Linked DNA regions of Homo sapiens: region 2 is linked to region 1. The links come from fine-mapping of genetic effects on gene expression. A gene starts in region 1. The other region holds a variant in brackets. All regions are shown on one strand. Distances are between the middles of the regions.

Evidence for each region. PIP is the estimated chance that this variant, and not a neighbour inherited with it, causes the effect.
Region 2: its variant is fine-mapped to the expression of CTSB in whole blood (TOPMed, PIP above 0.99).

Annotation. Positions count from the first base shown.
Region 1 is chr8:11,865,955-11,871,186 of GRCh38, reverse strand. CTSB (cathepsin B) reads left to right here and starts at 3,100. Exons shown (of 10, transcript NM_001908.5): 1 at 3,100-3,186. RefSeq lists silencers at 2,947-3,066, 3,207-3,536 and an enhancer at 3,627-3,836.
Region 2 is chr8:11,889,593-11,895,074 of GRCh38, reverse strand. No RefSeq gene overlaps it. Among named protein-coding and RNA genes, the nearest start is that of CTSB, 24 kb to the right of the region's middle. RefSeq lists a silencer at 3,767-3,950. The variant C/A (reference allele first, on the strand shown) is at 3,313.

The DNA.
Region 1 (5,232 bases):
CTCCCAAAGTGCTGGGATTACAGGCGTGAGCCCACTGTGCCCGGCGGATTTTTGTGAGGACGTATGTTTTCACCTCTTTCAGGTGTTAACTTAGGCCTCTTTTACGGATGTTCAACAAGCAAACAGCTTTTACACACGTGAGTCAAGGCCTCTCTGTAAGTTCTGAGAGCTGTTCCCCAGGCCCTGAACCCTGACCCCCAAATCTAGCAGGTTAAGCCAAAATTCTCCTCAACTTCAAGGCCTACTTCATTCATTATGCATCCACTCAACTCACATTTCTCTATCCTCTGCTATGGGCCAGACACCCTGCAATGAGCTGGGATGAAGCAGGGGAACACCGCAGGTAAAAATGCTTGCCTGGGTGGGGCTTAAGATCCAGTGAGGGCAGGAAGGAACATATACAAGTAAATATGCTGTATGTTCCTTTCTCCATGAAGCTTTCCTGGATGTTCCAGGAAGGGACGAATTCTACTCTGGTAGTAATATATTTCTTTTCTTGTCTTTTGAGGAGTCTTGCCCATGTTGGAGTGCAATGGCGTGATCTCGGCTCACTACAACCTCTGACTCCCTGGTTCAAGGGATCCTCCTGCCTCAGCGCTCGAGTAGCTGGGATTACAGGCCCGCAATGCCACACCCAGCTAATTTTTGTATTTTTAGTAGAGACGGGGTTTCACCATGTTGGCCAGGCTGGTCTTGAACTTCCAACGTCGTGATCCGCCTGCCTTGGCCTCCCAAAGTGCTGGGATTACAGGCGTGAGCCACTGCGCCTGGCCTATTTCTTTTTTTCTTTTCTTTTCTTTTGAGATGGAATCTTGCCCGGGTTGGAGTGCAATGGCGTGATTTTGGCTCACCGCAACCTCCACCTCCCGGGCTCAAGCGATTCTCCTGCCTCAGCCTCTCAAGTAGCTGGGATTACAGGCGCGTGAACCACCACGCCCAGCTAATTTTTGTATTTTTAGTAGAGACTGGGTTTCACCATTTGGGCCAGGCTGGTCTGGAACTCCCGACCTCAGGTGATCTGCCTGCCTCAGCCTCCCAAAGTGCTAGGATTACAGTGGTGAACCACCGCGCCTAGCCTGTTTCTTTTGTTTCAAAAGTGATTTTTACCTCTCAAAAGTGATTTCTATAATGACACTGATGGAAAATTCCATCAAATAGCCATAACGCATGTCAAGCACTCTGCTCTGCATACCTTCTGTCACACTCTAAGGATGAGAGAGGGGAGAGTTATCCTGGTTCTGGCTGTGTCCTCCCCATTTTGGCCATCTTATGAGCTCCTTATAGAGGTCTGAAATGATTTGGAGTCCAGAGTCCATGGCTGTCAGGATATGACTAGGGTGAGCAGGCAGTTGGGACCACCTTGACCTCCAGCCTCCTGGTCCTCAGTTCCTCGGGTATCCCACTCTGCTGGGGGCTTAGTGACCATGTTTGGGCTCCAGAGATTATTTTTTCCTTCCACTCCTATCCTTAGTTTGTTACTAACCAGGCGGGAGTACAGGCATGTCTCTGAAGACAGGCTCAGGGCTGTGTGACAGCTGACGACCAGGCTGCAGGGAACCAGGTCCCATGCAGTCCTACTGCCTTTTTTTTTTTTTTTTTTTTTTTTTTTGAGGCGGAGTCTCGCTTTTCGCCCAGGCTGGAGTGCAGTGGCACGATCTCAGCTCACGGGTTCACGCCATTCTCCTGCCTCCGCCTCCCGAGTAGCTGGGACTACAGGCGCCCGCCACCACGCCCGGCTAATTTTTTGTATTTTTACTAGAGACGGGGTTTCACCGTGTTAGCCAGGATAATCTTGATCTCCTGACCTCGTGATCCGCCCGCCTCGGCCTCCCAAAGTGCTGGGATTACAGGCGTGAGCCACTGCACCCGGCTACTGCCTTCTTACTGTCGCCACAGCCTGGATAAAATACGATTCTTCTGAGCCTTTTTTTTTTTTTTAATACAGAGTTTCACTCTTGTTGCCTAGGCTGGAGTGCAATAGTGCGATCTCTGGTCACCGCAACCTCCGCCTCCCGGGTTCAAGCGATTCTCCTGCTTCAGTCTCCCGAGTAGCTGGGATTACTGACACGCGCCACCACGCCCGGCTAGTTTTGTATTTTTAGTAGAGACGGGGTTTCTCCATGTTGGTCAGGATGGTCTCGAACTCCCGACCTCAGGTGACTCACCGGCCTCGGCCTCCCAAAATGCTGGGATTACAGGCGTGAGCCACCGAACCCAGCCCCTCTGAGCCTCTTGAATACAACTGGGGTCATGCCTGCTTTGCAGGTTTGTCTTAAGGATTAAAGCTGTTTGGGGAGTGTCTGGAGGAGGGTGAGTCTTGAGCCAACCCCTGCATCTCCCTTCCAGGGCCTCCCGGTAATAAACCCCAAGTAAATGTGCACTTTGTCCGTCCTCTCGGAGCAGGTCTCCGGGTACTCCTGTGCCAAACCGATTTCCGCCCCCAAGGTCCTTCTCCTCTTAGAAATCCTGACGCAGCTCCTAGGTTCCTTCGCAGTGACAGCCACTCTTTTCTATTTGTACGTAGCTGTAGTGTTTTGTGGGTACGTTCTCTGAACAACAAAGTGGCCCTTCTAAAGGCTGTTCTGTGGGGTCCACAGCCTCGCCACCCCCAGCCTCTGCAGCGGCTTCTGAATGAATGAAATAAGCGACGGCGCCCTCTCCACCACCCCACCCCCGCCAACTCGGCAGGCAGGGATCCCAGGCGCGGGTTCTGGCGGAGGCGGTCCCGCGAGGCGGGGGGACTTTTCTAGGCGGGGTGGGGGCCTTGGGACCACCTTTAGGGGCTTTTTCCCCATCCCCTGGCCCCAATTCGCAGCGTTTCGCCACCCAGGGCCCGCAGGGCTCCAAGCCCTTCTTCCCCAGCCCGCGCGCTCAGGCCCCCGCCCGCCCCCGGCGGTGGCCCCGGACCCCGAGCGGAAGGGGGCGGGGGGTGTGCGGGGCCGGGAAGCGGGGAGCGCGGGCGGCGGAAGGTGGCGGGAGGGGGTGGGGGCTGGGAAGCACCGTGCGCGGGCGGCGGGAGGGCCCGGGCGGGGCTGCGCGGTGGTCACGTGGGGCGGGGCCGGGAGGGTACTTAGGGCCGGGGCTGGCCCAGGCTACGGCGGCTGCAGGGCTCCGGCAACCGCTCCGGCAACGCCAACCGCTCCGCTGCGCGCAGGCTGGGCTGCAGGCTCTCGGCTGCAGCGCTGGGTGAGTGCTGGGGACCCGGGGCCACCGCAGCGTAAGTGACCTTGGCGGGGACGGTGCTACCCGGCCGCCGAGACGGGTTCCTCTGCGCCCTCAGTCGGGCCCAGGCGCGGCCCCGCGGCGTCCCTGGGGGCCGGCGGGGAGCCGGGACCCTCGGGACTGTCCCTGACGGGCGGGCTGGGGTGGGAGTCCGCGCGCTCCGAAGCGTCGGCGAGAAAAGCAGAAAACAGCTCCGCCCGCCAGCCCTCTGCCCTCCGCTCCCCTCCCCGGGCTGTGCGCCGGACCCCGGCCCTCGGAGCGGGGACGCGGCCAGGACCGCCGAGGGAGGCGCCTGCGAGGAAGAGCTCGGCCGGGTCCGGAGACTGCTGCCTGGGACCGCGCTCCCAGCGCCTGGGCCTCGGTGTCTCCGGGCCAAACTGCCGACATAATCGCATCTGCCGGCATCTATTTTCGGTTTATTTCCCCCTCATTGCGAAGGATTTGCCTGGCCAACTTTCTGCGCAAGATCCCACGCAATTCCTGGGACCCCAGAAGACAGGTCCTGTTGAAGAACAGGAATCTGGCACTGGGTGGGCTGGGGAGGAAGCCGCACGGTGTTAAATCCATAAACAGGAAGAGAAACCAGACAGCGAAACCAAGAGGCGAATGGGCGATTGGATGCCGGTGGGGAGAAGGCCGGGGGCGCACCCTGCTCCTGGACTCCAGTAAAGGGAGGCCGGGCAGAGTCCCTGGGGCGCCACCTCCCCCTCGGTTAGTAGCCCTGGAGGCCGGGGGGAGTTGGCCTCTGGGGAGCAGTGGGTGCTGGGTGTGGGGCGTTGCAGGCAGGCTGGGGTGGGCGACCCAGGTGGAAGTGAATTGCACTTGGCTTCCTGGTGGGCCTCTGTCACCCCCTTCCCAGGCGCTGAGAAAGCCAGCAGGCTGGCAAAGAAAAGGACCCTAGCGCAGGCCCCACACTCCTCCTCCTAACGGACGAGAGACCCCCCAAACCCACTGGAGAAGTGACGCTGTGGGGTTCAAATGCAGACCTGGCACCTTTTTGTAGCCTGGAAAAACATTCCCACTGCCTGCTGCCGGAGGAGAGGATAGCTGAGATGCACTCTCTTTGAATCCAAACGTTCAGGAACGTAAGGCGAAGAGGCCTAAGAGGGCGTTGGCTGGCTCTGTCTCTCAGGCTGGAGCACAGTGGCGCGATCTCGGCTCACTACAACTTCCGCCTCCCAAATTCAAGCTATTCTCCTGCCTCAGCCTCCCGAGTAGCTGGGATTACAGGTGCCCGCCACCACGCCCAGCTAATTTTTGTATTTTTAGTAGAGATGGGGTTTCACCATGTTGACCAGGCAGATCTTGACCTCCTGACCTCAGGTGATCCGCCTGTCTCGGCCTCCCGGTGAGTCACGGTGCCTGGCCAAGAACTGTTTCTTGTTGGCTCTGGTGCTGGTGACTTAGAACCCGCCAGCTCCTGGAGAAAGGGGCTGGGCCGCCCACCCTGTGTAGCTTTCCCAAAGACAGAGTCAAACGTCTCCTGGAGAACAGAGGCTTCCCTTCGTCTTTGGTCATTTGTCCTCTAGCTGGGGGTACCCCCTGGTGGAAAGGCACAGGTCCCTTGCTCCCCAGGTGGCAACGCAGGCCAGACACGGCCCTGGCACAGCTCTCCTGGGTGTTGGCTCAGGACAGCCCTGTTTCCAACTGGTTAGGCGGTGAGGGGTGGTGGCCCTTTGGTTCCAGGTTGAAACTGCCCATGTGGTGCTGATTTAGCAGACTGGGGAGGCTCTTTTTGTAGGCAGGTTCTTTTCTTTCCCCAGCTGCTGGACCTGGGAGTTGGAAGAGAAGTTGCACCCATTTTAGGGGTAACAGATATTTTCTGTTGCTCTTGGTTGGATTGGGAAGTGAATTGAAGGGAGGTCACGTTTCAGGGGTGCCTTGGGATGTCTGTCAGTGATTTTCTTTTCTTTCTTAATTTCTTTTTCTTTCTTTTTTTTTTTTTTTTGAGACACACTCCCTCTATCGCTCAGGCTGGAGTGCAGTGGTGCGATCTCGGTTCACTGCCAC
Region 2 (5,482 bases), 24 kb before region 1:
CTGCGTGACATGAAGAGAGAATCTGTGTGCTTGGGAGAAGGAGAGCACAGCAATCGCGGGAACTTGAATTGGAATTCAGAGCTACTGACATAGGGCAGAACTCAGCCAGTGGCCCTGGAGGGAGCATGTAGACCAGTCCTAGCCAGAAGGATAGATTCCAACCCATCCCAGAGGTTGGAACTTGAGTTTTGGCAAGCCTCACCACCATGGGCTAAAGTGCAGTGGGGCTCTAAATAAACTTGAAAGATGTTTAGGCCACAAGGACTGCAAATCCTAGGCAAGTCCTGGTGCTGTGGTGGGCTCAGAGCCAGTGGACATTGAGGGGCACATGAGCTAATAAGACACCACCCAGGGTGCCTAAGGGAGTGCTTGCAGCACCCCTCCCACAATCCCAGGCAGCACAGCTCACAGCTCCAAAACAGACCCCTTCCTGATGCATAGGAGAAGAGAAGGAAAACTAAAGAGGACTTTGTCTTGCAACTTGGATACCAGCTCAGCCACAGTAGGATAGGACACTAGTCACAGTCTTGAGGGCTCCATTCCAGGCCCTATCTCCTGGATGACATTTCTAGACACACCCTGGGCCAGAAGGGAACCCACTGACCTGGAGAGAAGAGCTCAGTCCTGGAAGAATTAATCACTTGCTGACTAAAGAGCCCTTGGACCCTGAATAATCAGCAGCAGTAACCAAGTAGTACAGGCAGTTGGCCTTGAGTGAGACTCTGAGACGTGCTGGCTTCAGGTGTGACCAGAAGCACATTCACAGTTCTGGTGGCTACGAGGAGAGAGTCCTTCTGCTTGAGAAAGAGAGAGGGAAGAGGAAAGAGCACTTTGTGATGAGCTTAGGTGCCAGCTCAGCCGCAGTGAGGAAGAGCACCAAAAGGGCCCTTAAGGCCCTCGATTCCAGGCTTGATCCAGCAGAAGAAAGAATGAGTGAGCTTGAAGATAGACTACTTGAAAATACACAGTCAGAGAAGACAAAAAAAAGAGAGAATAAAAAACAACAAAGCATGCCTATAAGACCTAGAAATTAGCCTCAAAAGGGCAAATCCAAGTAATTGTTCTTAAAGAGAAAATAGAGAGAGATTGGGTAGAAAGTTTATTCAATAAAATAATAACAGAGAACTTCCCAAACCTAGAGAAAGGTATCAATTTTAAAGTACAAGAAGGTTATTGAACACCAATCAGATTTAACCCAAAGAAGACTACCTCAAGGTATTTAATAATCAAACTCCCAAAGATCAAGGATAAAGAAAGGATCCTAAAATCAGCAAGAGAAAAGAAACAAATGACATCCAATGGAGCTCCAATCCATCTGGCAACAGACTTTTCAGTGGAAAGGCCAGGAGAGAATAGTATGACATATTTAAAGTGCTGAGGAAAGAAACTTTTACCTAGAATAGTTTATCTAGCAAAAATATCCTTCCAACATGAAGGAGAAAAACTTCCCTGACAAACAAATGCTGCGGGATTTCATCGACTCTAGACCTGTCCTCCAAGAAATGCTAAGGGCCGGGGTCGTGGCTCATGCCTGTAATTCCAGCACTTTAGGAGACTGAGGCAAGCGGGTCACTTGAGGCTAGGAGTTCAAGATCAGCCCGGTCAACGTGGCGAAACACCATCTCTACTAAAAATATAAAAATTAGTCGAGCGTGTTGGCGTACGTCTGTAATCCTGGGTACTCGGGAGACTGGAACATGAGAATCACTTGAACCCGGAAAATGGAGGTTGCAGTGAGTCAAGATTGTGCCACTGCACTGCATCCTGGGTGACAGAGTGAGACTCCATCTCACACACAAAAAAAAAAAAAAAAAAAAAAGCTAAAGGAAGTTCTTCAATCTGAAAGAAAAGGACATCAATGAATAATAGGAAATCATATGAAGGTGCAAAACTCACTGGTAAGTACACAGAAAAACAGAAAATATTATAACACCATAATTGTCGTGTGTAAACTACTCATGTCTTAAGGAAGAAGACTAAAAGATGAACCAATCAAAAATAATCACTACCATGACTTTTCAACTCATAGACAGTACAATAAGTTATCAATAGAAACAGTGGGCCAGATGTGGTGGCTCATTACTGTAATCCCAGTACTTTGGGAGGGGGAGGCAGGTGGATCACCTGAGGTCAGGTGTTCAAGACCAACCTGGCCAACATGGTGAAACCCTGTCTCTACTAAAAATACAAAAATTAGCCAGGCATGATAATTTAAAAATTAGCACACACCTTAATCCCAGCTACTAGAGAGGCTGAGCCAGGAGAATTGCTTGAACCTGGGGGACAGAGGTTGCAGTGAGCTAAGATAGTGCCACTGCACTCCAGCCTAGGTGACAGAGTGAGAGTCTGTCTCAAAAAAAATAAATAAATAAGTTAATACGTGGGGAGAGCAAGTTAAAGTGTAGAATTTTTATTAGTTTTCTTTTTGCTTGTTTGGTAGTTTGGTTTTTGTTTATGCAATCAATGCTGTCATCAATTTAAAATAATTGTTTACAAGATATTTGCAACCCTTACAGTAACCTCAAACCTAAAAACATACAACAAATACACAAAAATAAAAAGAAAGAAAGTGGCCAGGCGTGGTGGCTCATGCCTGTAATCCCAGCACTTTGGGAGGCCAAGGTGGGTGGATCACCTGAAGTCAGAAGTTTGAGACCAGCCTGGCTAACATGGCAAAACTCCGTCTCTACTAAAAATACAAAAATTAGCCTGGTGCGGTGGCGTGTCCCCTCCTGTGGTCCCAGCTACTTGGGAGGCTGAGGGAGGAGAATCACCTGAACCTGGGAGGCAAAGGTTGCAGTGAGCCAAGGTTGCTCCACTGCACTCCACAGCCTGGGCGACAGAGCAAGAGTTCGTCTCAAAAAAGAAAAAAGAGAGAAAAGCAAACAAAGGCTGGGCGCGGTGGCTCATGCCTGTAATCCCAGCACTTTGGGAGGCCGAGGAGGGCTGATCACGAGGTCAGGAATTTGAGACCAGTATGGCCAACATAGTGAAACCCCATTTCTACTAAAACTACAAAAAAAAAAAAAATTAGCCGAGTGTGGTAGTGTGCGCCTATAACCACAGCTACTCGAGAGGATGAGGCAGGAGAATTGCATGAACCCAGGAGGTGGAGGTTGCAGTGAACTGAGATCTCGCCATTGCACTCCAGTCTAGGCAACAGTGTGAGACTCTGTCTCAAAAGAAAATAAAATACAGAGGAGAGGAGAGGAGGGGAGGGGAGGAGAGGAGAGGGGAGGGGAGGGGATCTTGGAGAGCTATCCAAACTTCTCATTTCATCAGGAAGGAATCTGAGGGTTTAGTAACAAGGGG[C/A]CTCATCCCAGATGACTCAGATTTACTGGTCACTTCCTTTTCTGTTCAGGGAATCTGCCTCAGGCCAATACTAATTGGACCCCAGAGAGTCTTTATTCTACCATCTCAAAAACCTTGTTTAGGATTGTCTTAGCTATTTACTGCTGAGTGACAAAGGAGCATAAATTTGGCACCTAAAACAACACACATCGGCAGGGTGAAGTGGCTTACACTTGTAATCCCAATACTTTGGGAGGCTGAGGTATGAGGATCACTTGAGCCCAGCAGTTTGAGACCAGCCTCAGCAACATAGTGAGATACCATCTCTACCAAAAAATAAAAGTTGTTAAATTAGCTGGTCATGGTGATGTGTGCCTGCCATCCTAGCTACTCAGAAGGCTAAGGCAGGAGGATCACTTGAGCCCAGGAGTTCAAGGATGCAGTGAGCTATGATCATGCCACTGCATTCCAGCCTGGGTGACAAAGCAAGATTCTGGCTCACACACACACACACACACACACACACACACACACACACACACGTTTTCTCACAGTTTCTGTAGGTCAGGAATCTGGACACAGCTCAGCTGGTTCCTCCATTTTATGGTCTCTCACAAGACCACACTCAAGGTGTCAGGCAAGGTTGAGTCTTATCGAAAGGCCCAACTGGGGAGAATCTGCTTCCAAGCTCACTTTTTGGTCGTTGACATGACTCAATTGCTTTTAGGCAGTTGAACAAAGGGCCTTGATTCCTAGGTGTTTTTTCCCAGAAGGCACCCTGTGTTTCTTGCCTTGTGGGCCTCCCCAATCAAGCAACTTGCTTTATGAAAGCTTATAAAGGAGAGAGTCTGCCACCAAGACACAAGTCGTCATCTTATATTTACAGAGGTGACATCCTATCATCTTTGCTCTTCTCTGTTTGTTAAAACCAAATCGAAGGTCCTGCCTGCACACAATTGGGGACATTACACAAGGGTGAGAACACCAGGAGTCAGGGACCACAGGGAGCCATCTCAGAGTTCACTCAACACAAAGATATTAATCTTCATTAAGCTCTTTCTGCCCCAGAAAGCAGCCCAGCTTTTGTGGATGTTGTGAGGCCTGTCTCCCAGAAGGGCATTTATTAACCAAACAGTATACAAGATGGTATTAGTCCATTTTTATGCTGCTGATAAAGACATATCAGAGACTGGGCAATTTACAAAAGAAAGAGGTTTATTGGACTTAAAGTTCCACATGGCTGGAGAGGCCTCACAATCATGGTGGAATGTGAAAGTCACATCTCACATGGGGGCAAACAAGCGAAGAGAGAATTTGTGCAGGGAAACTCCCATTTCTAAAGCCACCAGACTTCATGAGACTCATTCACCATCTCAAGAACAGTGCAGGACAGACCTGCCCCCATTATTCAATCACTGCCCACCAGGTTCCTCCCACGACACATGGGAATTCTTGCAGTTACAATTCAAGATGAGATTTGGGTGGAGACACAGCCAAACCATGTGCAGTGGCACAATCGGCCCACTGCAACCTCTGCCATCCAGGTTCAAGCAATTCTCATGCCTCAGCCTCCTGAGTAGCTGGGATTACAGGCATGTGCCAGCACACCTGGCTGATTTTTGTATTTTTAGTAGAGACAAGGTTTCACCATGTTGGCCAGGCTGGTCTTGAACTCCTGACCTCAAGTGATCTGCCCACCTCAGCCTCCCAACATGCTGATGCCTGGCCCGATTTCTTCTTTTTCAATATAATGTGGAATTATCTGATATCTGGATCCAATTTAGTTGTTTATGGAACTGAAACTTCCATTTATTTTGTGGATTATTTCCAAAAACTGATTGGGACTTTGTGTCCGATTTCATTCGTTTCTGTGTGTCATCAAAAGCTGTATTTGTTATGGAGATTAATAATATGTTCTAATTCCCCAGAACTTAGCCATGTCTAACCCTGATATGGACAAGGTTCCATCACCTTTTATAAGACCTTTACAGTAAGTCTTCAATAAATATTTGTTGAATGAATGAGTAAATGACTGAATGGATGGGTGAATGGACACTTTCGCTGGCTTGGGTTTGGGCAGACAGTAGGAAGTGGGGGCCACTGTTTCACCAAAGGAATCACGCTGGAGAAAATCCCTGCATAGCATTGAGTTGTGCAACTATAAATCTATTCCCATAAATTCCAATCAATC